Homo sapiens: one gene and its partners. The protein of the gene in region 1 purifies or fractionates together with the protein of each later gene. This does not show direct contact. Each region holds a gene or a part of one and is shown in the gene's direction. Other genes may lie near its edges.

The links.
Region 2: the proteins of PCMT1 (region 1) and KLHL42 purify together in Homo sapiens (affinity purification with mass spectrometry; 3 studies listed by BioGRID and IntAct, with this or other methods). This does not show direct contact.
Region 3: the proteins of PCMT1 (region 1) and TIMP2 purify together in Homo sapiens (co-immunoprecipitation; one large-scale study listed by IntAct). This does not show direct contact.
Region 4: the proteins of PCMT1 (region 1) and TRAP1 fractionate together in Homo sapiens (co-fractionation; one large-scale study listed by BioGRID). This does not show direct contact.
Region 5: the proteins of PCMT1 (region 1) and ABI1 purify together in Homo sapiens (affinity purification with mass spectrometry; 2 studies listed by BioGRID and IntAct, with this or other methods). This does not show direct contact.
Region 6: the proteins of PCMT1 (region 1) and YKT6 fractionate together in Homo sapiens (co-fractionation; one large-scale study listed by BioGRID). This does not show direct contact.
Region 7: the proteins of PCMT1 (region 1) and RMC1 purify together in Homo sapiens (affinity purification with mass spectrometry; 3 studies listed by BioGRID and IntAct, with this or other methods). This does not show direct contact.

The regions. Positions count from the first base shown.
Region 1 is NC_000006.12:149,787,741-149,791,240, forward strand, and holds part of PCMT1 (protein-L-isoaspartate(D-aspartate) O-methyltransferase), read left to right. Parts: intron 1-2,213; coding exon 2,214-2,318; intron 2,319-3,500. UniProt on the Homo sapiens protein: Initiates the repair of damaged proteins by catalyzing methyl esterification of L-isoaspartyl and D-aspartyl residues produced by spontaneous isomerization and racemization of L-aspartyl and L-asparaginyl residues in aging peptides and proteins.
Region 2 is NC_000012.12:27,793,733-27,797,232, forward strand, and holds part of KLHL42 (kelch-like protein 42), read left to right. Parts: intron 1-3,500. UniProt on the Homo sapiens protein: Substrate-specific adapter of a BCR (BTB-CUL3-RBX1) E3 ubiquitin-protein ligase complex required for mitotic progression and cytokinesis. The BCR(KLHL42) E3 ubiquitin ligase complex mediates the ubiquitination and subsequent degradation of KATNA1.
Region 3 is NC_000017.11:78,852,477-78,855,932, reverse strand, and holds the end of TIMP2 (metalloproteinase inhibitor 2 precursor), read left to right. Parts: intron 1-68; coding exon 69-266; 3' UTR 267-2,956; downstream 2,957-3,456. UniProt on the Homo sapiens protein: Complexes with metalloproteinases (such as collagenases) and irreversibly inactivates them by binding to their catalytic zinc cofactor. Known to act on MMP-1, MMP-2, MMP-3, MMP-7, MMP-8, MMP-9, MMP-10, MMP-13, MMP-14, MMP-15, MMP-16 and MMP-19.
Region 4 is NC_000016.10:3,658,525-3,662,024, reverse strand, and holds part of TRAP1 (heat shock protein 75 kDa, mitochondrial isoform 1 precursor), read left to right. Parts: coding exon 1-38; intron 39-3,159; coding exon 3,160-3,232; intron 3,233-3,500.
Region 5 is NC_000010.11:26,766,959-26,770,458, reverse strand, and holds part of ABI1 (abl interactor 1), read left to right. Parts: intron 1-113; coding exon 114-214; intron 215-1,466; coding exon 1,467-1,607; intron 1,608-3,500. UniProt on the Homo sapiens protein: May act in negative regulation of cell growth and transformation by interacting with nonreceptor tyrosine kinases ABL1 and/or ABL2. May play a role in regulation of EGF-induced Erk pathway activation. Involved in cytoskeletal reorganization and EGFR signaling.
Region 6 is NC_000007.14:44,203,978-44,207,477, forward strand, and holds part of YKT6 (synaptobrevin homolog YKT6), read left to right. Parts: intron 1-590; coding exon 591-673; intron 674-2,407; coding exon 2,408-2,508; intron 2,509-3,410; coding exon 3,411-3,500. UniProt on the Homo sapiens protein: Vesicular soluble NSF attachment protein receptor (v-SNARE) mediating vesicle docking and fusion to a specific acceptor cellular compartment. Functions in endoplasmic reticulum to Golgi transport; as part of a SNARE complex composed of GOSR1, GOSR2 and STX5.
Region 7 is NC_000018.10:23,520,511-23,524,010, forward strand, and holds part of RMC1 (regulator of MON1-CCZ1 complex), read left to right. Parts: intron 1-1,080; exon of another isoform or gene 1,081-2,379; coding exon of another isoform or gene 2,380-2,396; intron 2,397-3,500. UniProt on the Homo sapiens protein: Component of the CCZ1-MON1 RAB7A guanine exchange factor (GEF). Acts as a positive regulator of CCZ1-MON1A/B function necessary for endosomal/autophagic flux and efficient RAB7A localization.

The DNA.
Region 1 (3,500 bases):
TCCACACAGTCTTACCATTGGTAAAGCAAATCTCACCATTTGCTTTATCATTTATTCTCTCTCCCTTTATCCCCTCTCTCCTCTGTGTGTGTGTGTGTGTGTGTATGTGTGTGTATTATATTTCCGTTTTTCTGAGCTCTTTGAGGGTAAATTACAGGCATAATGCTCTTTACCTTTAACTTTTTTTGAGATGGAGTCTTGCTCTGTCGCCCAGGCTGGGGTGCAGTGGTGCAGTGGCACGTTCTCAGCTCACTGCAAGCTCCGCCTCTCGGGTTCACGCCATTGTCCTGCCTCAGCCTCCCAAGTAACTGGGACTACAGGCGCCCACCACCACGCCCAGCTAATTTTTTGTATTTTTAGTAGAGATGGGGTTTTACTGTGTTAGCCAGGATGGTCTCGATCTCCTGACCTCGTGATCCGCCTCGGCCTCCCAAAGTGCTGGGATTACAGGTGTGAGCCACTGTGCCCGGCCAATGCTCTTTACCTTTAAAAATAAGGACATTCTCTTACATACCCATAGTACAATTTTTGAAATCTGGAAGTCAGCATTGATATAACACTATTAGCCAATTTATAGACCTTATTCAGATTTCATCAATTATTCTGATAATATTCCTTATAGGAAAAGAAAATAGTAGATTGTGAGTTTTATTTGATTGTCATGTCTTTTTAGTTTCCTTTAAAGAATGACTGAGAAATGGTTCCTTATTCTTTTATGACCTTGAAAACCTTGAAAATTTTTACGAATATGGGCCATTTATTTTGTATAATGTCCCTCAATTTGGGTTTGTTTGATGTTTCCTCATAATTCAATATAGGTTATGCATTTTTGCCTGGCATATCCCAGAAATGAAGTATCTTAGCAGAGGCATTTGATGTCAGTGTGTCCCATAATTGTGGTGTTAACTTTGATCATCTGATTAAGGTAGTGTTGACCCAGTTTTTCCACTGGAGAACTTTTTTCTGAACTCCATTGTAAAATTACTATTTTTCCTTTTGTGATTAATAATTATCTGGGGCAAACCCTTTGAGATTATGTAAATATCCTGTTTATTTTTCAAATGTTAGTCCACTAGTTTTAGCTTCCATTTATGATTTTTACCTGAATCAATCAGTTATTATTGAGATGGCTGCCCAAAGGCTGATTTTCTTAATTTTTTCTATGTGCATTCATTATGTATCTATATATTTGTTGGGAACGGTTTTCCCTATTTTTCATTTATATATGTATAGAATGATGTATTAATTTATCACTATAGATTAATGGATGGGTATTTTTATCAACCAAGATCTGGTAGTAAATGTGTTTACTGCTATTGGATCTGATTTTTTTTTTTTTTTTTTTTTTTTTGAGATGGAGTCTCGCTCTGTTACAGCCCAGGCTGGAGTGCAGTGGCATGATCTCGGATCACTGCAATCTCCCCGTCCCGGGTTCAAGCAGTTCTCTGCCTCAGCCTCCCGAGTAGCTGGGATTACAGGTGGCTGCCACCATGCCCAGCTAATTTTCTTGTATTTTTAGTAGAGATGGAGTTTCACCATCTTAGCCAGACTGGTCTTGAACTCCTGACCTCGTGATCTACCTGCCTCAGCCTCCCAAAGTGCTGGAATGTCAGGCCTGAGCCACCACGCCCAGCCTGATCTGATTATTTTTAATAATGAGAATACTGGCTGGGTGTGGTGGCTTATGTATGTCATCCCAGCACTTTGGGAGGCCGAGGTGGGCGGATCACCTGAGGTCGAGAGTTCGAGACCAGCCTGACCAACATGGAGAAACCTCATCTCTATTAAAAATACAAAATTAGCCTTTGTATTTTTGTATTTGCTTATATATGCAAAGAATCTATTCCTTCCTTTTTGGAAGGAGTCACAAGAAACTAGTAATATTGGTTACCTTTACAGAGTGAAACCTGGATGGTTGGAAATGGGAGTAGGGTGGAGACTTTTCACTTATAAATCTTTTAATTTTTTTACTGAATTAATTAAAAGTTAAAAATTCACACACTGGAGGTCTAAAATTACTGAAACACATGATCTGAATGTAAGAATTCTAATCAAACAGTTTACTTAAGTAATACCTGGGCAGATAGCCAAGATAACTTGGTTATCTTGGTAGATGACAATAGTAGAAAAATTGGTAGAAAGTTGGCAACTTTATTTATATACCATGATGTGTGTACTTTAGTCTTAATGAATATTTTGTTTTCTTTTGGCAGCATGCATATGCGCTAGAACTTCTATTTGATCAGTTGCATGAAGGAGCTAAAGCTCTTGATGTAGGATCTGGAAGTGGAATCCTTACTGCATGTTTTGCACGTATGGTAAGAGTTTTATTTCTCACTCTGGCCCCAACAGAAGAATATTATATGATTTGGCTGTATGTTTTTTTAACTAGTGGTTTTCATGTTTATTTGTTTGTTAATTCTATTAGGATAGCAGTTGGAATGAGCATCACTTAGGATTTTGTTGTTGTTGCAAGTGACAGAACATGCAACCCAAACTGGCAGAGCTAAAAGGGAGTTTATTTAGTTCATATAACAGAAAAGTCTAGGGGTGTATACGGTCTGTTGTGTGGCTGGATTTAGAAGAGCAGATGTTGTTATTGACGATAGGGTTCTCTCTGTTTCTTGATTTGGCTTTACTTTCCTCCACATGTTGGTGTCATTATCCGGTAAGCTCTACCCTTGTAATCACAAGATGGTGGCCAGTAGCTCCCAAACTACCTTCTTCCAAGTTCTGATTTGGCAGAAAAGAATAGAATAAGCCTGGTTTTCTTTTCTTTTTTTTTTTTTTTTCTTCTTAAAAACAGAGGTTTTATTGCATTTGGTCCACAGTTGGTATTTCACCTTATCTCATGGTGCAGGGACCCTGGGTAGGGGACTCTCTACAGTACTTGGTGGGGCATGTGGCTGGGGGAGACAGAGCAGTATAGCTGGTCAGGCCCAGAAGGGGAGAAGGAAGGCTGGAGGCTCCTTAAAACCTACTGAGGGACCAGACGCGGTGGCTCACACCTATAATCCCAGCACTTTGGGAGGCTTAGGCAGGCAGATCACATGAGGCCAGGAGTTCGAGACCAGCCTGGCCAACGTGGTGAAACCCCATCTCTACTAAAAATAGAAAAATTAGCCAGGCATGGTGGAGCACCTGCAGTCCCAGCTATTCAGGAGGCTGAGGCAGGAAAATCCCTTGAGCCCAGGAGGTGGAGGTGCAGTAAGCCTTGATTGCACCACTGCACTCCAGCCTGGGCAACAACAACAACAACAAAAACCTACTGAGGCACAGTGTGGGGGGTGGGCTTAGCATGGAGAGGGGGTCAGGCTTAGCCCCGACAACTCAGAATTCTACTTCCTTGTACAGGCCTCAGTTTCCCCACCGGGCCCTGGGACATGTCTGAGGGTCCCAGGGAAATCCAGTCACTCAGGAGCCTGAGATATTTAGCATCGTAGCTGGGCCCCGTCTCCCAGGGGACTCATTTCCCAGCACCCTCTCCACTGTCCCTGCCC
Region 2 (3,500 bases), on another chromosome or scaffold:
TACAGAAAAGGTGTAACCTGGCTCTTAGGACTTTAAGCCACATTATGGTAGTAGACCTGCCGTTTTATTTGACATGGTGAAATAAACTACCACTCCTTTGTGGTACCATATGGGCAGGACAGAGCTCTTCAACCCTGGCTAACAAGCCTGAAGAAGACCCTGTGAGGCCGCAGCAGCCATGGGAACTTCCCAAAGGACAGAAATCCACATGCTAACGTAGCATCCAGATAGGTGACAGAAATTCCTTCCACCATATCCAAATGTGTCCTGTTTTGGGGATTTATGTTAGGAAGAAGTTAAAATGTAAAGTATTTGATGAACATCTGATTTATTTCTTTTTAGAATAAGTCGAAACATTAATTCAGTGGGGAAGATGGTGGGAGGTGTGTTAGTTTCCTGTGGCTGCCATAACAAATTAGTATACACTTGGTGGCCTAAAACAACAGAAACATATTTTCTTATAGTTCTGGCGACCAGAAGTCAGAAGTCAAGGTGTCAGCGGGGCTGTGCTCCTTCTGAGGGCTCTAGGGGAGGAGTCCTCCTTGCTCCTTCTAGTCTCTGGTAGCTCGGGGCTCCTTGGCTGGTGGCTCCATGATGCCCCTGCCTCTGTCTTCATATGATGCCCCTGCCTCTGTATGTATCTGTGGCTTCTCCCTTTCTGTCTAAGGACAGTTGCCACTGTTGGATTTAGGCCCCATCTAGGTAATCCAGAAAGATCTTAAGGTTTTTAACTTAATTACATCTGCAAAGACCCCCTTTCTTTTTCTTTTTTCCCTTGAGATGGAGTCTCACTCTATTGCCCAGGAAATAGTGTAGTGGCACAGTCATAGCTCATTGCAGGCTCAACCTCCTGGGTTCAGGCGATCTCCCACCTCTGCCTCCCAAAGTGCTGGGATTACAGGCATGAGCCACTGTGCCTGGCCCAAAGATCCTTTTTTTGAATAAAATCACCATTCACAGGTTCTGGGGATTAGGAATTTGACATATCTTGTTAGGGACCACCATGCAACCCACTGAAGTGATGTGTATATTTATGTATTTAAGGAGAGGCAAGACAAAGAGAAGTGACCTTTTTTTTTTCCCACTCCAAGTTTTCATTATTTGTCGAGCTATTCCCAATGTCCCTCTCTGGTGACTCTCCACTGAAGATAGTTTTCAACTTTTTCTTTACATATAATTGAAAAAAAAAAAAAGAAACTTAGTAGTCATTGCTTTGACCTTCAACACTGGTTGTCAGGTTACAGTGATTATAGGTTTAGACTAAGCCATGGGCCCCTCAGTCCCCCTGAACTCCTGTGTTTATGTAGTAATCCCCCTCTCTCGTGTGTGTGTGTATATGTGTGTGTCTTTTCTTCTAGGAAAGTCAATACTCCCAGTTATTTACCTATGAGCAATTCTAAGAATTCTGATTCCTCTCTAGGTTGAGTAACACAGACTGCATCTTGTGGGCTGACATAACGCACATATGTGCTTTGACTTCTCTTGTAACCAAGAGCTGTTCAACACTGACAGGCGGCACTGTAACCCAAAGAGTACTTTACTGGTAGATTTCCTAGTTTTTCCATGACCCTGGCTGAGCAAATGTTCTTTAGATTTGACCTAGAAAACCCTTCTTGTGTGTTTTGTAACCTCACAAGCCACTGCTAATGTACCTTCTTCACTTGGGCCACCCACCGTGATTTCTGTCCTGGATTCCCTGAGCCAAATACCCATGATGGGATGGTTCAGTGATGTGGATGGATGGCTATTTGTGTAAGGGCCGAAAACTAGTTTTCTAAGATGGGAGAGCTGGGCAGTTACTTATACTCTGAAGCCCTTCTCTTTCTCTGCTGGGGCTTTCCCAGCAGTTCCTAATAGTTCCTTGTATTTCAGATAAGTCATCATGATTGTTAGGAAAAAAAGAAAAAGTTAGTTTTTAGCCTCCTGACTTCTTAAGTCAAGTGAGACTTTTAAAATTTAGTAAATAATAGCTCATTATTTTTATGGTAGCTATTTGATTATTTTAATTCTTTAGCAGCACTGAAGAAATTCAGAGAAGTTCAATAGAGAGTAATAGCTATAAAGGGAAGAAGGGTGATTTGTCAAACTTCAGAATCAACTTTAAATGTAAAAACAAAAAGATCATTCCACCAACTCAGGCCACCTTGTTGAGTGAAGAGAGAAAACATTTACAGAACACCTGGAAAGACCTTCGGGCCTGGAGCTGAGAAATACGTGGAAGCCTCACTAGAATGAGTTCTTTATTGGTTCGGTGGACAGCCAGGTTACTAAGGAGCACTTTTTGTTAAATAAGTGACCAAAATCCCCTTGGGCCATCTCCTAAAATGATCTTTATCATAATAGCTACAGTAAAAAGAAAGAAGGAGAGGTATTAATGTGGGTGGAAATCAGGACAGTTTCCTAATGCCGTGGCTTACAATTCTGAGATTTCTCCAGGCATCAGGACATGTGCGCGCACAGGACTTGGCTCTCTTAGGAGATACTTCAGTTTGTATCAGATGTGGCTGTGGAGGGTGCTCTTTAAGCATTGCTAACTATGAGTGGGTCCCTCTCAGAAGAAAGGACTGTAAGAGGTATGAAACTTCTGAGAAAACGAGCTGTCTTCTCTTACCAAGCGCCTGCAGCCGTCAAAATGCTGTAGGCTTTAGTCGTCTGCCAGTTCCCAAGCTGAGCTGTCTCCTTCATGGATAGGATTTGTTTGTTTAGAAACAACAACAAAGTTCATTCTGTTTATAACTCAGAGCATTTGTTTTTTCTGCTGAGGCTAAAATACTTGTTTATTCTTTCCTAGAGGAGAAAAGAAAAGAGAACAATTAAAAACAAGAAAAACAAAACTAGATATTCTAAATTTCACAAGCGTTTTTCAAAAAGAGACGAGGCCATATTTTTCCTTAAAGAAAATTACTTTTTTTTTTGAGAGAACAGGATCTCACTCTGTCACCCTGGCTGGAATGCAGTGACATGATCACAGCTCACTGCAGCCTCACCCTACCATGCTAAAGTGATCCTCCCACCTCAGCCTTCCAAGTAGCAGCTGGTACCATAGGTGCACACCACCATGCCTGGCTAATTTTTTATTTTTTTTAGAGACAGGAGGTCTCACCATATTGCCCAGGCTGGTCTCGAACCCCTAGGCTCAAGTGATCCTCCTGCTTCAGCCCACCCAAAGAGTTGGGATTACAGGCATGAGACACCATGCTTGGCCGAAAATCATTATTAATTAAAAATGTCAGAGCAACCTTTTATCTAGACGTTGATCTTATCTACGCTACAACTGTCATCTTGTGAGGGACATGGGAAATGGGAAAAGGGAGAGGGGAGGACCTTTGTTAGTGTCTCTCTGGTGATATAATGGGGAAACTAAGGCTAGGCATGGTAAAGATCCTGTCTTTAAAAAAAAACAAAAAAAAAACTGGAAACTGAATTGCCAAGTGGTTCTGTGGCTTGTTAGAAGGCCGCAGGTGAGACTTTGCTGCCTTTCTCCTGACTTGTAACGTTGT
Region 3 (3,456 bases), on another chromosome or scaffold:
CCAGAGCAGCCTCTGCCCACCCCTTCCTGGGTCCCTGACTCCGTCCCCCTCCGTGTGCCCCTCCCCAGATCACGCGCTGCCCCATGATCCCGTGCTACATCTCCTCCCCGGACGAGTGCCTCTGGATGGACTGGGTCACAGAGAAGAACATCAACGGGCACCAGGCCAAGTTCTTCGCCTGCATCAAGAGAAGTGACGGCTCCTGTGCGTGGTACCGCGGCGCGGCGCCCCCCAAGCAGGAGTTTCTCGACATCGAGGACCCATAAGCAGGCCTCCAACGCCCCTGTGGCCAACTGCAAAAAAAGCCTCCAAGGGTTTCGACTGGTCCAGCTCTGACATCCCTTCCTGGAAACAGCATGAATAAAACACTCATCCCATGGGTCCAAATTAATATGATTCTGCTCCCCCCTTCTCCTTTTAGACATGGTTGTGGGTCTGGAGGGAGACGTGGGTCCAAGGTCCTCATCCCATCCTCCCTCTGCCAGGCACTATGTGTCTGGGGCTTCGATCCTTGGGTGCAGGCAGGGCTGGGACACGCGGCTTCCCTCCCAGTCCCTGCCTTGGCACCGTCACAGATGCCAAGCAGGCAGCACTTAGGGATCTCCCAGCTGGGTTAGGGCAGGGCCTGGAAATGTGCATTTTGCAGAAACTTTTGAGGGTCGTTGCAAGACTGTGTAGCAGGCCTACCAGGTCCCTTTCATCTTGAGAGGGACATGGCCCTTGTTTTCTGCAGCTTCCACGCCTCTGCACTCCCTGCCCCTGGCAAGTGCTCCCATCGCCCCGGTGCCCACCATGAGCTCCCAGCACCTGACTCCCCCCACATCCAAGGGCAGCCTGGAACCAGTGGCTAGTTCTTGAAGGAGCCCCATCAATCCTATTAATCCTCAGAATTCCAGTGGGAGCCTCCCTCTGAGCCTTGTAGAAATGGGAGCGAGAAACCCCAGCTGAGCTGCGTTCCAGCCTCAGCTGAGTCTTTTTGGTCTGCACCCACCCCCCCACCCCCCCCCCCCCGCCCACATGCTCCCCAGCTTGCAGGAGGAATCGGTGAGGTCCTGTCCTGAGGCTGCTGTCCGGGGCCGGTGGCTGCCCTCAAGGTCCCTTCCCTAGCTGCTGCGGTTGCCATTGCTTCTTGCCTGTTCTGGCATCAGGCACCTGGATTGAGTTGCACAGCTTTGCTTTATCCGGGCTTGTGTGCAGGGCCCGGCTGGGCTCCCCATCTGCACATCCTGAGGACAGAAAAAGCTGGGTCTTGCTGTGCCCTCCCAGGCTTAGTGTTCCCTCCCTCAAAGACTGACAGCCATCGTTCTGCACGGGGCTTTCTGCATGTGACGCCAGCTAAGCATAGTAAGAAGTCCAGCCTAGGAAGGGAAGGATTTTGGAGGTAGGTGGCTTTGGTGACACACTCACTTCTTTCTCAGCCTCCAGGACACTATGGCCTGTTTTAAGAGACATCTTATTTTTCTAAAGGTGAATTCTCAGATGATAGGTGAACCTGAGTTGCAGATATACCAACTTCTGCTTGTATTTCTTAAATGACAAAGATTACCTAGCTAAGAAACTTCCTAGGGAACTAGGGAACCTATGTGTTCCCTCAGTGTGGTTTCCTGAAGCCAGTGATATGGGGGTTAGGATAGGAAGAACTTTCTCGGTAATGATAAGGAGAATCTCTTGTTTCCTCCCACCTGTGTTGTAAAGATAAACTGACGATATACAGGCACATTATGTAAACATACACACGCAATGAAACCGAAGCTTGGCGGCCTGGGCGTGGTCTTGCAAAATGCTTCCAAAGCCACCTTAGCCTGTTCTATTCAGCGGCAACCCCAAAGCACCTGTTAAGACTCCTGACCCCCAAGTGGCATGCAGCCCCCATGCCCACCGGGACCTGGTCAGCACAGATCTTGATGACTTCCCTTTCTAGGGCAGACTGGGAGGGTATCCAGGAATCGGCCCCTGCCCCACGGGCGTTTTCATGCTGTACAGTGACCTAAAGTTGGTAAGATGTCATAATGGACCAGTCCATGTGATTTCAGTATATACAACTCCACCAGACCCCTCCAACCCATATAACACCCCACCCCTGTTCGCTTCCTGTATGGTGATATCATATGTAACATTTACTCCTGTTTCTGCTGATTGTTTTTTTAATGTTTTGGTTTGTTTTTGACATCAGCTGTAATCATTCCTGTGCTGTGTTTTTTATTACCCTTGGTAGGTATTAGACTTGCACTTTTTTAAAAAAAGGTTTCTGCATCGTGGAAGCATTTGACCCAGAGTGGAACGCGTGGCCTATGCAGGTGGATTCCTTCAGGTCTTTCCTTTGGTTCTTTGAGCATCTTTGCTTTCATTCGTCTCCCGTCTTTGGTTCTCCAGTTCAAATTATTGCAAAGTAAAGGATCTTTGAGTAGGTTCGGTCTGAAAGGTGTGGCCTTTATATTTGATCCACACACGTTGGTCTTTTAACCGTGCTGAGCAGAAAACAAAACAGGTTAAGAAGAGCCGGGTGGCAGCTGACAGAGGAAGCCGCTCAAATACCTTCACAATAAATAGTGGCAATATATATATAGTTTAAGAAGGCTCTCCATTTGGCATCGTTTAATTTATATGTTATGTTCTAAGCACAGCTCTCTTCTCCTATTTTCATCCTGCAAGCAACTCAAAATATTTAAAATAAAGTTTACATTGTAGTTATTTTCAAATCTTTGCTTGATAAGTATTAAGAAATATTGGACTTGCTGCCGTAATTTAAAGCTCTGTTGATTTTGTTTCCGTTTGGATTTTTGGGGGAGGGGAGCACTGTGTTTATGCTGGAATATGAAGTCTGAGACCTTCCGGTGCTGGGAACACACAAGAGTTGTTGAAAGTTGACAAGCAGACTGCGCATGTCTCTGATGCTTTGTATCATTCTTGAGCAATCGCTCGGTCCGTGGACAATAAACAGTATTATCAAAGAGAACGTGGGCTCTCTCCGTGTGGCTGTATCCGATGTTCAGAACGGCCACTTCCTAGCTCAAGAATGGGAATCAGCCTCTGCAAGGAGCCTCTCCTGTCCGGCGGGAGGGGGCGCCCTGTGTCCTCCAGAGAAACAAGGCCAGTGAGCTCTGAGTCAAATATGGGATGCAGACCAGGTGTGGTGGCTCACGCCTGTCATCCCAGCACTTTGGGAGGCCAAGGCGGGTGGATTGTTTGTGCCCAGGAGTTCGAGACTAGCCTGGCCAACTTCGCAAAACCCTGTCTCTGCAAAAAATAGGCGTGGTGGCATGTACCTGTGGTCCCAGCTATTCAAAAGGCTGAGATAGGAGGATTACTTGAACCTCGGAGGCAGAGGTTGCAGTGAGCTATAATTGCACCACTGCATTCCAGCCTGGGCAAGAGAGTGAGACCCTGTCTCAAAAAAAAAAAAAAAGAAAAAAGAAAAGAAAAGTGCGATGCAGTGGCAGAGACGGGGCAGCAGAG
Region 4 (3,500 bases), on another chromosome or scaffold:
GCACAGCTCCTGCAGCCCACGCTGGAGATCAACCCCAGGTGAGGCCACGCTCCTGGCTCTTCCAGCCTGTGGGATTCCCCAGAATCCTGTGTGTGGTGTTCTTTTGTTGTGGAATGTGACACAGAAGAAAAGTGCGTGAGGCCTGTGGACATGTGGGTAACTATAAGGAGCTGTATGCAGTTTAGGCTGCACCCATGTGAAATGGAACCTGGCCAGCCCCTTACCATCCCCAGGTGTCACCTGGGAGGTTAGCCACATCCCAGCCTGTGACCATGTCCTCGTTTTGCTTTATGGCTTTGCCACCTGTGCGTGTCCTGGACATGCTCAGTTTTGCCTGTTTTGAGCTTTGTACGTGGATCTTGGTGTTTGCTGAAGTCTCACGTTGCTCACTTGGCATGAGGGTTGCCCATGCAGAGGGGCTGCCACAAGTTCATTTTCATAGCCGAATAATGTCCGCTGCAGAAACCCACCTCGGCACAGCAGACTGCTCCGTTCTGCTCTGCTGGGCCTCCGGTGGTTCTTGGTCAGAAGTTGTGGAGAGCCAGGCTGCTCTGAGTATTCTTGTCCACGTGTCTGGGGCTTGTGTGGGTTTCTCTGTGGCCCCGGTGGTGGGAGCTGCTTCCAGGGTGCACCGAGAACCCCCCAGCCCTGACAGTGGCTGAGCCGTAAGATTTCCCTCGTTTCTTCCTGTTGTTCTTTATATGCCCTTTATCTGTTGTAAATGTCTTTTCACCTGCCTTTAGGTATCTTTTGAGTTTCTTTCTTTTTACAGTATCACTTCTTTGCACCCATGAATGTGATCTATTTAGGTCTTTAACATCCTTTGGTACCTTACATTCTCTGTAGGGTTCTGGTACCATTTTTAAAGAATTATTCTTTGATGTGTCTTATGGGGTATTTTAAAATTTCATTTTCTAACTTGTATATGAACTAACTTGTATATGAAGTTTCTTTTTTGGGGGAAATTTTGAATGTAGCAATTTTTTAAAAAATGAAGTTACATAAACATGTTACCAAAAATAGAAAACAGCAAAAAGGAAATCAAAATCCATAGACTTACCACCCCCCCCACAATGTAGCCTAAGTAGTATTTTAATTTTTGAGACAGGGTCTCACTCTGTCCCCCAGGTTGGAGTGCAGTGGGGCAATCTCAGCTCACTGCAACTTCTACCTCCTGGCCTCAAACAATCCACCTGCCTTAGCCTCCCGAAGTGCTGGGATTACAAGTGTGGGCTACCACCCCCAGCCAGTTTTTGTTTTGTTCTTTAGTACATGTCTAGTTTTTTTCTTTTGTCATTTTACAACCATAACTTTTAAAATTATACTGGAGGCGAGGGAGATGCATCTTCCTAGCCATGGCACTCCTGGGGAAAGGCTGACTTGGCTTATGGCTGTCAGTGCACAGCAGCGCCAGTATGCAGAATGCCTGTGCCTCTGCTGGAGCAGCTCAGTGAGGCGGACACCAGGTCACTTTAACTAGTTTTGGTGGCAAACTAGTTTTGTGAGATAGCTGCAGAAGTGCTCGTTTCTGTCTGTTGCCACTTCACTTTTGGAGACAGGGTCTTGCTCTGTCACCTAGGCTGGAGTGTACCAGTGGCGCCATCAGAGCTCACTGCAGCCTTGGCCTCCCAAAGTGGTGGGATTACAGGCGAGAGCCACTGTGCCCAGCCAGCTTCACTTTCATTTGTTTTAAAATTTGGTGTTCTGTCCACATAGTTCAGAATTCAAAACTGCTTACAGGGGAAAATTTCCTCCTACCTGTGTCCCCAGTGCAGCCAGCATTAGGGCTTTTGTATTTCTGCAGAGATTATGTGCATTTGTGGGCAGCTGCGCCCGTGGGCTTCCAAGGGGGAACTTGCTGTGCAGTGGGTCCTTGCCTTGCTTTTCTCCCTTAGGGTAACTAGGTGACCTCCACATTAGCATATTAAGAATGTCCTTTTTTTCCAGCTACGTAGACTAGAAATGTGAGGATGTGCATTTGAAGTGTTTCCTCTGTTAGGTTGGGTGCGGTGCCTCACGCCTGTAATCCCAACATTTTGGGAGGCCTAGGCGGGTGGATCACTTGAGGTCAGGAGTTCGAGACCTCATCTCTACTAAAAATACAAAAACTAGCTGGGGGTGGTGGTGGGTGCCTGTAATCCCAGTTACTTGGGAGGCTGAGGCAAGAGAACCTCTTGAAACCAGGAGGCTGCGGTGAGCCAAGATCATGCCATTTCACTCTAGCTTGGGTGAAGGAGTGAGAGTCTATCTATCTATCTATCTATCTATCTATCTAAAAAAAAAAGTGTTTAAAGGGATGCAGTTAGGAAATGGAATGGCTGAGTCTCAGCATATCATCCACATGTGGTTTTCCCGACTCCAGTTGTCCTCTGGAGAGGTTGTACAAATTTACAGTTCCCCAGAGCCCTCGGTTTTATCAGACTTCTAAGTGAAAAATTATAATATTCATGTTAAGGTTAAATACTACATGATGCTTTTTCCTATGCAGAAAAAAATATTGTTCTGACGTCAAATATGTCAATCATTCTTTACTTTTTGGTTTGTGGTTTTGCTTGGAAAGGCTTTCCCCTTCTGAGATGATGAAACATTTCTTCCCTAGAATTGTGCTTGTCATCTTTGATCCCTCTGGAATTTACTCTGGTCTAAATGGTTTTCTGCATGGCTCCCAGTCATCCCAGTGCTGCTGGATGGAGTGATCTGTCTCCTCCCTCTTCTGTGAAATACTGTCCTCATCAGACACTCAGTGTCCACCCTCGTTACATGGAGTTGTTTGCCTTCCCCCTTTCCAGACCTAAACTGTTTTATTTACTAGAGCCCTATAATATGTTTCAACATGTGGGTCTTACTCCCTTCTCTTTTATTATTTATCTAGGAACCAAGGCATGTCTTCACGTACTAAGCTCCTTTTGTCCCTTTAGTGTATATTAATCTTGGAGTTTGGCTACCTTACAGCATTTTCTAATACTGACACTCCTGATTCTCTTGGGTTTTCTGGGTATATAATGATATTATCTATAAATGATCATTAACATACCTTATTTAAAAAACTACAGACAGTCTTACTGTGCTTCTTTAAATATCCTGATAATCCCAAAACATGAAGGGAGGGTCACAGCACGTGGTACTGAGCTGCTTTTTCTGGTGGGTTCTGTGTTGCAGGCACGCGCTCATCAAGAAGCTGAATCAGCTGCGCGCAAGCGAGCCTGGCCTGGCTCAGCTGCTGGTGGATCAGGTGAGTGCAGCAGCTTAGGATGACTGCAGGGACCCAGGCTACCAGCCCTGCCAGCCTGCCTTCAGGGTGGAACAGCGGTTTCCTCTAAAATCCTGTCTTTTTGTTTGTTTGTTTGTTTTTTGAGATGGAGTGTTGCTCTGTTGCCAGGCTGGAGTGCAGTGGCGCGATCTTGGCTCACTACAACCTCTGCCTCCCGGGTTCAAGCAATTCCCCTGCCTCAGCCTCCCGAGTAGCTGGGACTACAGGCATGCGCCTGGCTAATTTTGTA
Region 5 (3,500 bases), on another chromosome or scaffold:
TGTCTGGGAATCCTTAATTCACATTCTGATATTTAAAAAAAATAATACATGGTGTTAAAACACCAGGAGAACAATTTGATATAAAAATAAAAGCATTTCTTTCTACATTTTAGCATGGAAATAACCAGCCTGCAAGAACTGGCACACTGTCGAGAACAAATCCTCCTACTCAGAAACCGCCAAGTCCTCCCATGTCAGGCCGGGGAACACTGGGGTAAGAATTCAACTACATTTTGCAAAAGAATTCATATGCTAAAGGAAAAGATGTTTCTGTGACTTAAGTAAGTGTATGGGATCCATGCCACACTACCCTCTCTATGTGACGCTACCTTTTACAAATTCATTTTAATTCCTATTTTCCTGAACAGAATCCCAAATGAATCTGCCAGCTTTGTAATATTCTCTATAATCTGTACTAGGAAAGTTTTTATGTATGTATAAATGGCATGATTTATTTTTTTGTCATCTAATTTTTAAAAAATATAAATCTGACTTGTTTGTTTTAAATGGAATGATTAGAGTATTCCAAATGGTGCCTTTGCATGTGTTTACAGTATCTATATTGTAGAACTTTGACTAGTGGTCTACTTTTGTGTAGTATGGCTTAGTCCACAGCTCTTCTGTTTCGCCTATTGGTGTCTGAGACTTAGGGACTCTTTACTTTAGGAAAGTATGCACTTTACTTGTAACTATGCTTCTGCTGGTAATCTTAGGCCTCTTCACACTAGAGTAGCTCCATGGGAAGGCCAGTTGGGCAAGTAGAAAAGATAACAGTGGCTTCTTCCTTCCTAGTTCTCAGTGTACTAAATATAGCGAATACTTGTCAAAGCATTATATTTCTTTAAGGTTGTTTTTCTTAATACTGGAAATATTATATTGGATTTCTTATTTTTTGGCAGAGGGGTTGTTCAACAATCAGTCTTCTTTTAAGAAGGTCTTAGTTTTCATTTTTATTCATTAAACCCTCTGCCCCTGAAAAAAAAAATGAAGTTATTAAACAGAATAGTCGAAATCATTTATTGAGAAAGTAATGATTAGAATGTATATCTCCATTTATTGCCATATTGAGATGGGAATAAATTGCAGCTTCCTATGTAAATAAATTTAGCTTCCTGTTTAAAGAACAGTGGCTTATGGGTGACTGTACTGAGAAAAATGTACATTTTAAAGTTTGCTATTATTGAGCATTTAAAAAATTATAACCATAATTTTTAGAAATAAGGTTAGGACTTTAAATTACCCTTTCCTATGTTTTTCCTAGGAAAAGGTAACAAATTTTAGTTTTCATGTTAAAGTAACAAAATTCATATATCCCAGTGAAGAATATTTTTTAAAATTACAAACTTTGTCATATATATTTTTAAATCCTGGTATACATGGTCACAAAGGGAGACTCACATATTTTTGGGAAAAATACAATTTTATCTTTTTTATTCATTATTCCTTTCTCCACTATGCTCCTTTAGACGGAATACTCCTTATAAAACCCTGGAACCTGTTAAACCCCCAACAGTTCCTAATGACTATATGACCAGTCCTGCTAGGCTTGGAAGTCAGCATAGTCCAGGCAGGACAGCATCTTTAAATCAGAGACCAAGGACACACAGGTAAGCCTTTAGGTTGAGTATCTCAACATCTCTAAAGTGGGTGTAACTGACTGGCGACAAACTCCTATGGAGGTGCTGAGTAAAGGTGAGGTGCCACTCTAATGCTAATATAAAATGTAAAAGTTGGGGGAATAATATTATATATGTTCCTGTAAGTTTGTGTTATAACTTCTGTTTTGTTTTGTTTTTTTAACTTTTTAAAACATCTATTTGTACTATTAATGGATTGTTTGTATTTCCTCCTTTTGATAGAGGTACAGACTCTATCAGACTCTACGGGTTAAGACTAAAGAATTTTTTTCTTTTTTTTTTTGTGACGGAGTTTTGCTCTCGTTGCCCAGGCTGGAGTGTAGTGGTGCGATCTCGGCTCACTGCAACCTCTGCCTCCCAGGTTCAAGCGATTTTCCTGCCTCAGCCTCCCAAGTAGCTGGGATTACAGGCCTGAGCCACCACGCCTGGCTAATTTTGAGTTGAGACGGGGTTTCTGCATGTTGGTCAGGCTGGTTTCCAACTCCCAACCTCAGGTGATCCTCCTGCCTCGGCCTCCCAAAGTGCTGGGATTACAGGTGTGAGCCACTGTGCCCAGCCCTAAGAATGTTTTAAAATGCTCTTTTAAAAAAATTCAAGGCAAACCACTCAAATACTTTTGGAGAAAAGATTAAATATCATAGGAATTATACAACGTGATTTAAACTTTCAGAGATTGAAGGAAAGAAGATTAAGCTTAAATCTGAGGGAGATTTTTTTAAGAGAATCAGTATACTAGAATATGTTGTTATAATAATAATATTATTATTATCTTTTTGGAGATGGAGTCTAGCTCTGTCACCCAGGCTGGAGTGCAGTGACGCGATCTCGGCTCACTGCAACTTCTACCACCCAGGCTTAAGCAATTCTCCTGCCTCAGCTTCCAGAGTAGCTGGGATTACAGGTGCATGCCACCACGCCTGGCTAATTTTTGTATTTTAGTAGAGATGAGGTTTCACCATGTTGCCCAGGCTGGTCTCTAACTCCTGACCTCAGGTGATCCACCCACCTCGGCCTCCCAAAGTGTTGGGATTACAGGCATGATCCACCGCTCCTGGCCTTGTATTTATTATTTTTAAATGTCCTAAAAGTCAATTACCCGGTGGGTTTTTAAAAATTTAGTTACAGAGCATAACAAGCATTCAGAAAAGTATCCACTTCAGTAAGTATACAGCTTGATGAATGGACACACACTCATATAACCATCACCCAGATCAGAAAATGGAACATTACCAGCAACCCAGAAGCCCCTCATGCTCCTTCCTGGTTATCGCCTCGACCTTCTTCCCCCAAAATATAGCCACTTCAATTTTTGAGTGCTTTATAAAACCAGATAAATTTATTATATAACCAAATTTGTTTTATTCTTCAGTTTTCTCTCTCACTTAATAACGTGGGCAGGGAACCTCTCTTTTGCCTTCACTCTTAGGTTGGTAAATGAGAGATAACTTATCAAAATGATTTATGGGAATTCCACTAAATAGGGTATATCAAGATGCGAGATGCTAGGTAAGCGGTATTTATTACTATTGGTGCTGTTAGTAAACAAATTGTTAAGTTGATATCTGCAGTTACTGTATCAGGTCAAGTTCTTTGAGGAACAAAATTGTTCTCTTTGTTGTTATTGAACTCTTGGATCAAAGTATAGTTTTTCTCTATAGTGGAAGCATAGTTTAATCATATTCAACAAGCAGTTATTAAGTGTTGTTTCATTAGATACTAGGCATTTGTCAATAGGGCATAGTTCTTTTTTCAAGAGCTCATTCTGTTAGAACAGGGATCAGCAAACTTTTTCTATAAAGGGCCAGATTGTCAATATTTTAGGATTCGTGGGCCATATATATGGTTTCTGATGCAATTACTCAG
Region 6 (3,500 bases), on another chromosome or scaffold:
GTATGAGCCATTTCCCACTTCTTTGTCTTGGATGAGCAGTTTTCCTTTTGTTCCATCCAGAGTGTCTTGCGCTCGTTCTGTGGACGAGCCCCAGCAGACCTGAGCCAGCACTCACTATGGGTGTATGTGGCATTGCGAGGGTCTGTCATGTGGACACAGCCATAAATGGTTGTGCATTTCTGCCTGACAGTTTTTGCACACTATTCTTCTAGTGCAGTTCTTATAAATGTCCTGCTTCTTGGAAGTTATTGGGACCTTGAGAGCAGGACCTGCCTCTTGTTTTTCCATTGCATTCCAAATTATGCATTCACCAAAATGTAAAATTGACTGTATCCTGTGGAAAAACCCCCCAGAAAATTCACCTGTTTTGGTGAGCCAGGTAGCAAACAGATGGAGCTTTCATGGTGATGATAATTCATAATTATCAGTATTTGTGCTCATTTATAGAGTGTTTGTTACTAGGGATGGGAGGGAAAGGAATGAAACCAAGAAGCAATGTCTACTTAATGTATAAGCCCAGAGGTCACTTTCCACTGTGTTGGGGACAAGGTGATAAGAAGTAGGCAATAAATACATTTTGTGTTTCTTAGCGTTCAGGAATTCATGACCTTCACGAGTCAACTGATTGTGGAGCGCTCATCGAAAGGCACTAGAGCTTCTGTCAAAGAACAAGGTAAGAAGACCCTCCAACTTCTGTGCGTGTGCTGGCCTGGCTGCCATGCCTCACCTCACATAGCACCCAGCTTTCTCCTTTCTACTGGGACCCTACTCCTCCTCTAGCTTGTTCTCTCTTTCCCACCTCTTCCTTTTCCTATTTATGCAGAATTCTGTGCCCACTGTTGAAGTCTGAGCTTCCCAGATAAAATTGCCCTCAAACTTAGACTCATTTAAGATTAGGGTCTGACTCTTTTGGAGCAGTAAGCAGCCTTCATATCGTATTCTTCCCTATCCTCTTCAGAGTTGCAGACCCCTCAAAAAAGGATTTCCAGCTAGCACTGTTGAGGTACTATATGTATTCTGTGCATCGTAGATTTTTTGATCAGGAATCTGAAAAAACTATTTTTTCTTTCTGATAATTCAGGTTTAGGCATTTATTTAGATGTGTATGTTATACAGACAGATCAGGAAAGAGTTACATGAGTTTCATCAGGTAGGGACAAAGATCATCTCACACTTATGCTAACCTCAAGTCACGTGACATAGAGTTACTGAATTGATGATATAAATGTCAGTTATGATACAGGCAGGATTGACTATATACACTTTATGTGGGATCTCTGTGCTATTAACATCATAGAAGTGAAATCGCATCACAAATATTTCAGTGTTCTTGCTCTGTTCTTCAAACTGTGCCTGCCCTTCCCACGTTTATTACTTAAAGACAATTCCTCCACTGACCAGGTTCTCAGTTTCTTTGGAGGGTATGCACTTTGACCCCATGTTTGAATCTTAATTGGGGATGGTATACAAAATCTGGAGAGCATTGGTGACAACCCCCTGTCCTCTTCCTCCTCCTCATTCTTGTTCTCATTTATCTCTGCTCTTTTCTGATTTCAGGGGCTCACCATCATTCCCTCCTCTTTTATTTGTTTTTCTGTTGTTTAGCATTGGAATCTTCTGGGTCAGATCCTTAAGGACAAGAAGGTTCTTATTTGTAAGCTGTAATCCTTACATTTCTCTTTCCTTGGGGATATGGTTAGCTGTATCAACTCTGAATCCTTTCAAAGTGATGGAAATGAACAATCCTGTGGATTGTGAATATTTTGCGGAAGACCTGTACAACTGTACCTTTCAATCATATGAGGATTTTAGCACAGTGCTCTGGAGGCCTTAGCTGGCAGTAGCTAATCTTTTTCTAGACTAACCCCCCTACTCCCAGTCACCCACCAGAGTGGAGCAAACCCAGCAGGTTGCTATAATATGGAAGACTGAGGCCCTGGGGGGTAATTTCCTGTCTTTTGGCTGCTCTGAAAAGATTTTTTAAGAAAGCAGAGGCCTCTTGGCTTGTCCAGGGTTCCCTAAGTTTGGGAGCAGCACAGAGCCCCAAGGGCTCCAGATCCCTAAGATATAGCTTGGCCTGACCCGAGCTTAAGGAATACACTTGGAAATGCTCCTGGGGCCATGTTGTCAAGGGTGTGTTTTCTGCACCACTGGCTGTTTCTTTAAGCCCTGGCTTTGCATACTGGGCCTCTGGGTATTTACTGGTCCTAAAGCAGGCGTTGGGCCAAGCTCCTGTGTGTGGCCCATTGGGCTGTGCTGCTAAGCCTCTCCACAAGACTTGCCCAGAGCTATTGAGCTTCCGAGTGGCTTCATTTGGCCTAACATTGGATGCTTTGATTTGGGGGGATTAAAAGAAGTCTGAAGCCCTCATGTCAGCATCCATGTGTCTGATCTCTTGTCTCCTTAGACTATCTGTGCCACGTCTACGTCCGGAATGATAGTCTTGCAGGTGTGGTCATTGCTGACAATGAATACCCATCCCGGGTGGCCTTTACCTTGCTGGAGAAGGTGAGTTTTTTATTTGCCTCTCCTGGACTTGGATGATGAATGGGCACATTTATGGACTGGGACAGGGGTTGATGGCAGTCCCTGAGACATAAGGGATGAAATGATGTGTCCAAAGTCAACACATTTTTCAGCCCCCTTCCCTGCAACCCAAGAGACAATTTGGCATCCCTGTATGGGTTTCCTCCCCGGTGCTGTCCCTCATGTGAGCTGGGTCTAGGCCACTGAGTCATAGCATCTATTCTCTGGGATGGGACCCTCGGAGACAGCTGTGCCTTGTGTTCTCGCCCCCTGTGCTTCTGCTCAAGGAGTCTCCCTCTTGAATGCCTTCACTCTCCCCATTGCCTCCTGCAGTTGCTGCATCCCTCTACCTTGATGTCAGTCAGTTGCACCACAGAGCTTAGCACCTAAGCATTCTTTAAATTTTTTTGCGTACGGTGCTAATTACTAATATTAACTCTTTGAAGTCAGAGGCTTCATCCTATACCCCAGAGCACCAAAATACCTCCAAACACATGGAATCTGGTGGTTTCTTAAATCTAGGGGACCTAATTCTCTTTTTTAAAAAATTGCTTTGGAAAATTAGAGGACCAGTGCCCCTTTTTTCTGGAAATCTGTAGTTTAAAATTCAAATACCTTTATTACTCCCCAAGTGAGGTTCATCTCGGGCTGGGCATACTTTTGATTCTCAGAATATTTAGGATATGTTTTAATGATAAAAATTTGGAAAGAACTTTAGCCTAGATTTTCTCTGTTGCCATTATATGTCCCCCTCATTCCTCCTTCCTGGGCTGTGAAGGCCAAGGAGCCTCATTCAGGGTGAGGTGCTCAGGGGTGAAGCCCTGTCATTGAGACCACTGGTGAGTGCACAGTGGGAGGCTTGTTGAGTCTCCTTTGTCTTGCAGGTACTAGATGAATTCTCCAAGCAAGTCGACAGGATAGACTGGCCAGTAGGATCCCCTGCTACAATCCATTACCCAGCCCTGGATGGTCAC
Region 7 (3,500 bases), on another chromosome or scaffold:
AGGTAGTGTCGTGATCTTGGCTCACTACAGTCTCCACCTCCTGGGTTCAAGTGATTATCCTGCCTCAGCCTCCCAAGTAGTGGGGATTACAGGTGTGTGCCACCGTGCCCAGCTAATTTTTATATTTTTTTAAATTTATTTTTTTGACAGAGCCTCACTTTGTTGCCCAGGCTGGAGTGCAGTGGCATGATCTCGGCTCACTGCAACCTCCACCTGTCTGTCACAAGGTTCAAGCTTGTGAGGTATTCAAGCAATTGAACCAAGTATTCAATCGCTTAAATACTTGTGAGAGGAGATAAGGTTCAAGTGATTCTCCTGCCTCAGCCTCCCAAGTAGCTGGGATTACAGGCGTGCACCACCACGCCCAGCTAATTTTTTTGTATTTTTAGTAGAGATGGGGTTTCACCATGTTGGCCAGGCTGGTCTTGAACTTCTGGCCTCAAGTGATCTGCCCACCTTGGCCTCTCAAAGTGGTGGGATTACAGGCATGAGCCACCACGCCTGGCCCAAATTTTTATATTTTTGGTAGAGATGGGGTTTCACCATGTTGGCCAGACTGGTCTTGAACTCCTGACCTCAGGTGATCCGCCTGCCTCGCTCTCCCAAAGTGCTAGGATTACAAGTGTGAGCCACCATGCCCAGCCTGTTCTAGTTTTTTAAAAAATGCAACTACTACTGATCCTATAAGCTAAAATTATGTTGTGAAAAAAGCATTTTCTAAGATAGATGAATCTCCCTTGGGAGGAAATAGAATAATTTATCTTCCCTGAGCTTTAGAATGGATAGTTTTGATTAGCCGTTGATGGTGAAATATGTTTTAATATTGAATACACCCGTAACGTTTTCTGTTTGCCTTAGCTCTGTAACGCTGAAATTAACTTTGGCTGTAGGTTTGTTACTGTAACCTGGGATCACTTTTCTCTTTCTCACATTCCGTGTGACAGTGATGATGAATATTGCATTCTTTGGGACTGACAGTCACAGTAAGTGCTTCGGCTGTGGCTCTTAGGCTTACCCAAATCAGTCCTCCTTCTGTCTGGAGAGGTGGGGTTGGGAAGTCAGAAGAGTGGAGGTCAGGAATTCAGGAAAAGGGAAAGAAGTCATTTATTTGCTTCGTTTTGCCTTTTTCCAGTGTAATTGATTTTAAGATAGAACTGAAAGAATATTCAACACACACTCTCTCTCTTTTTTTTTTTTCCTTAAACAGAACTTTATTTTCTCACAGTTCTGGAGGCTAGAAGTTCAAGATCAAGATGTCTGCAGGTTTGCTTTCTTCTGAGGCCTCCCTCCTGGCAGGCCTCTTTGCAGATGGCCACCTTCTCACTGTGTTCTCACAGGGTCTTTCTTCTGTGCCTGTCCCTCGCAGCAGTCTCTCCCGGCTCTCTTTTGAAGGAGATTGGAGTGCAGAATTGGCTAGTCTGAGGTTTCAGTGTGCAAGACGTAGTCAGATGGCTCACATTTGGAACCCTAGTAGTAATGTTTTATTCTTTGTCCGATGGCATTGGGCGGGTTGACCCAGCCTGCAGTCAGGATTTCCTTGTACCGTTCACCCGGGAGTTCAGAATCGCACTCTGGCTGAAAGTTCAGCAAGAGCACCATTGTCAGCCTGACTGCCCTGTCTTGCTGGACCAGCCAAAAGCTTAGTTACTTTCTGGCACAGTTGGAGGAAGGAGCTGGTTCTTAACAGACGTTCAATTAGGTCTTTTGGCTTTCTGTGTTCTTTCAAGCTTCTTCCTTTTCCTTTGTAAATAATGTTAGTATTGAAAGAATAGATTTTGCCAAGTGATTGTCTTGTGTCTGCTGCCCACTTGGCATGAAGGTAACTGCTGGTGAATTGGGGGAAAAAAACTAAACATTTAGAACAAGCCTGTCCAACCCACGGTCTGTGGGCCACATGTGGCCCAGGACAGCTTTGAATGCAGCCCAACACAAATTCTTAAACTTTCTTAAAACATTATGAGATTTTTTTAATGATATTTTTTAAGCTCATCAGCTATTGTTAGTGTTAGTGTATTTTATGTGTGGCCCAAGACCATTCTTCTTCTTCCTCTTAAGGCCCAGGGAAGCCAAAACATTGGACACCCCTGGCTTAGAACCTTCAGCTCTGTTCCGGTGGTACAGGACCAGTTAGGAGGCATCAGGTTCTAACCATCTGGTCATAAGGGAACAGATGCGAGGCCTGGTCACAGTAACAGCCCGTGCAGAGATCAATAGGAGGAAATCAGGAATCCACTGAGGGTCTGGGGATCTAGGTAGTGTGGGCTGCAAAGCATTTTCAGAGGTTAGTGACTCTCCTTTTGTTTCCTGCTGGGCTGTGAGCCCTGGCGGCTTGATGCATCCGTGTGTCTTGCCCACTGTGCTGCCACTGGGTGGGCGTGCTCAGGAATTGAATGGGCCTGTTGAGAAAGATATAACCAGCACTTTTGGGAAGAGTCAGCCACCCTTTTTCTTTTTGTTTTGGGCCTGTTAGAACAGTGGGTCTCAATCTGACTACATATTAGGATCATCTGGGGGGCCTTAAAAATGAAAGCTCTCACCTGACAGTGTGTAGGTCAGCCACCCAAAGGTGAGGGCTGTGCACTCGGCGCAGACCTTGACACTTAGGTCCAAAGCGCGAGTGCTCTTCGCCAAAGCTTGTCTGCCTGGGCTCTTTCCTACCTTTGGGTGGTCTGTTCACAATGACCCTTTCTCTGACCAGCTGATTGAAACCTGCCTTCTGATTGTACCTGGGTAATTGGAACAGAACCAGGAGTCATGGTTAGCTTGTAGGGCTGCCTGCATGGCTCATGAGCAGTATAACTGGTTGTTAACGGTCCCTGTCATGTGAGGTTTTGGGGGTCTGCTTCCCAGACGAGCTCACTGTGCTTGGACCTACTCTATGCAATGGATAATCGAACTAATTATTTAGATAATTAAGTGGCTGGGCACAGTGGCTCATGCCTGTAATCGCAGCATGTTGGGAGGCTGAGGTGGGCAGATCACTTAAGCCCAGGAGTTGGAGACCAGCCTAGGTAACATAGACCTTGTCTTCACAAAAAAAAAAAAAAAAAAAAAAAAAAGAAAAAAAGTTAGGGCATGGTCACATGCCTGTAGTCCTAGCTACTCTGAAGGCTGAGGCAGGAGGACCACTTGAGCCAAGGAGTTCGTGGTTATAGTGGGCTATGATCAACTACTGCACTCAAGCCTGGACAGCAGAGCAACACCCTCTCTTAAAGAAAAAAAAAGATAATTAAGCTACAAGCCACATTTATTTGAAACATTCTCCGTGGATGATCTGGGTATTTGATTTTGAATCCTTCAAGTAAATTTCTCAGTTCCTTAACGTGCATATGTAAACGATCATGAGTCATCTTTGGTTATTAAAAATAACCCAAACCACAGTGATTGAAGCCTTGACATGCTTTCTTTTTCTTGGTGAGATTTTCCTGGATTGTTAGCTCCTTCCCCCTTCCTCCCCGTACGTGCTTTCAGTGAGACGGAACAGTTCATTTCTTCCTTGA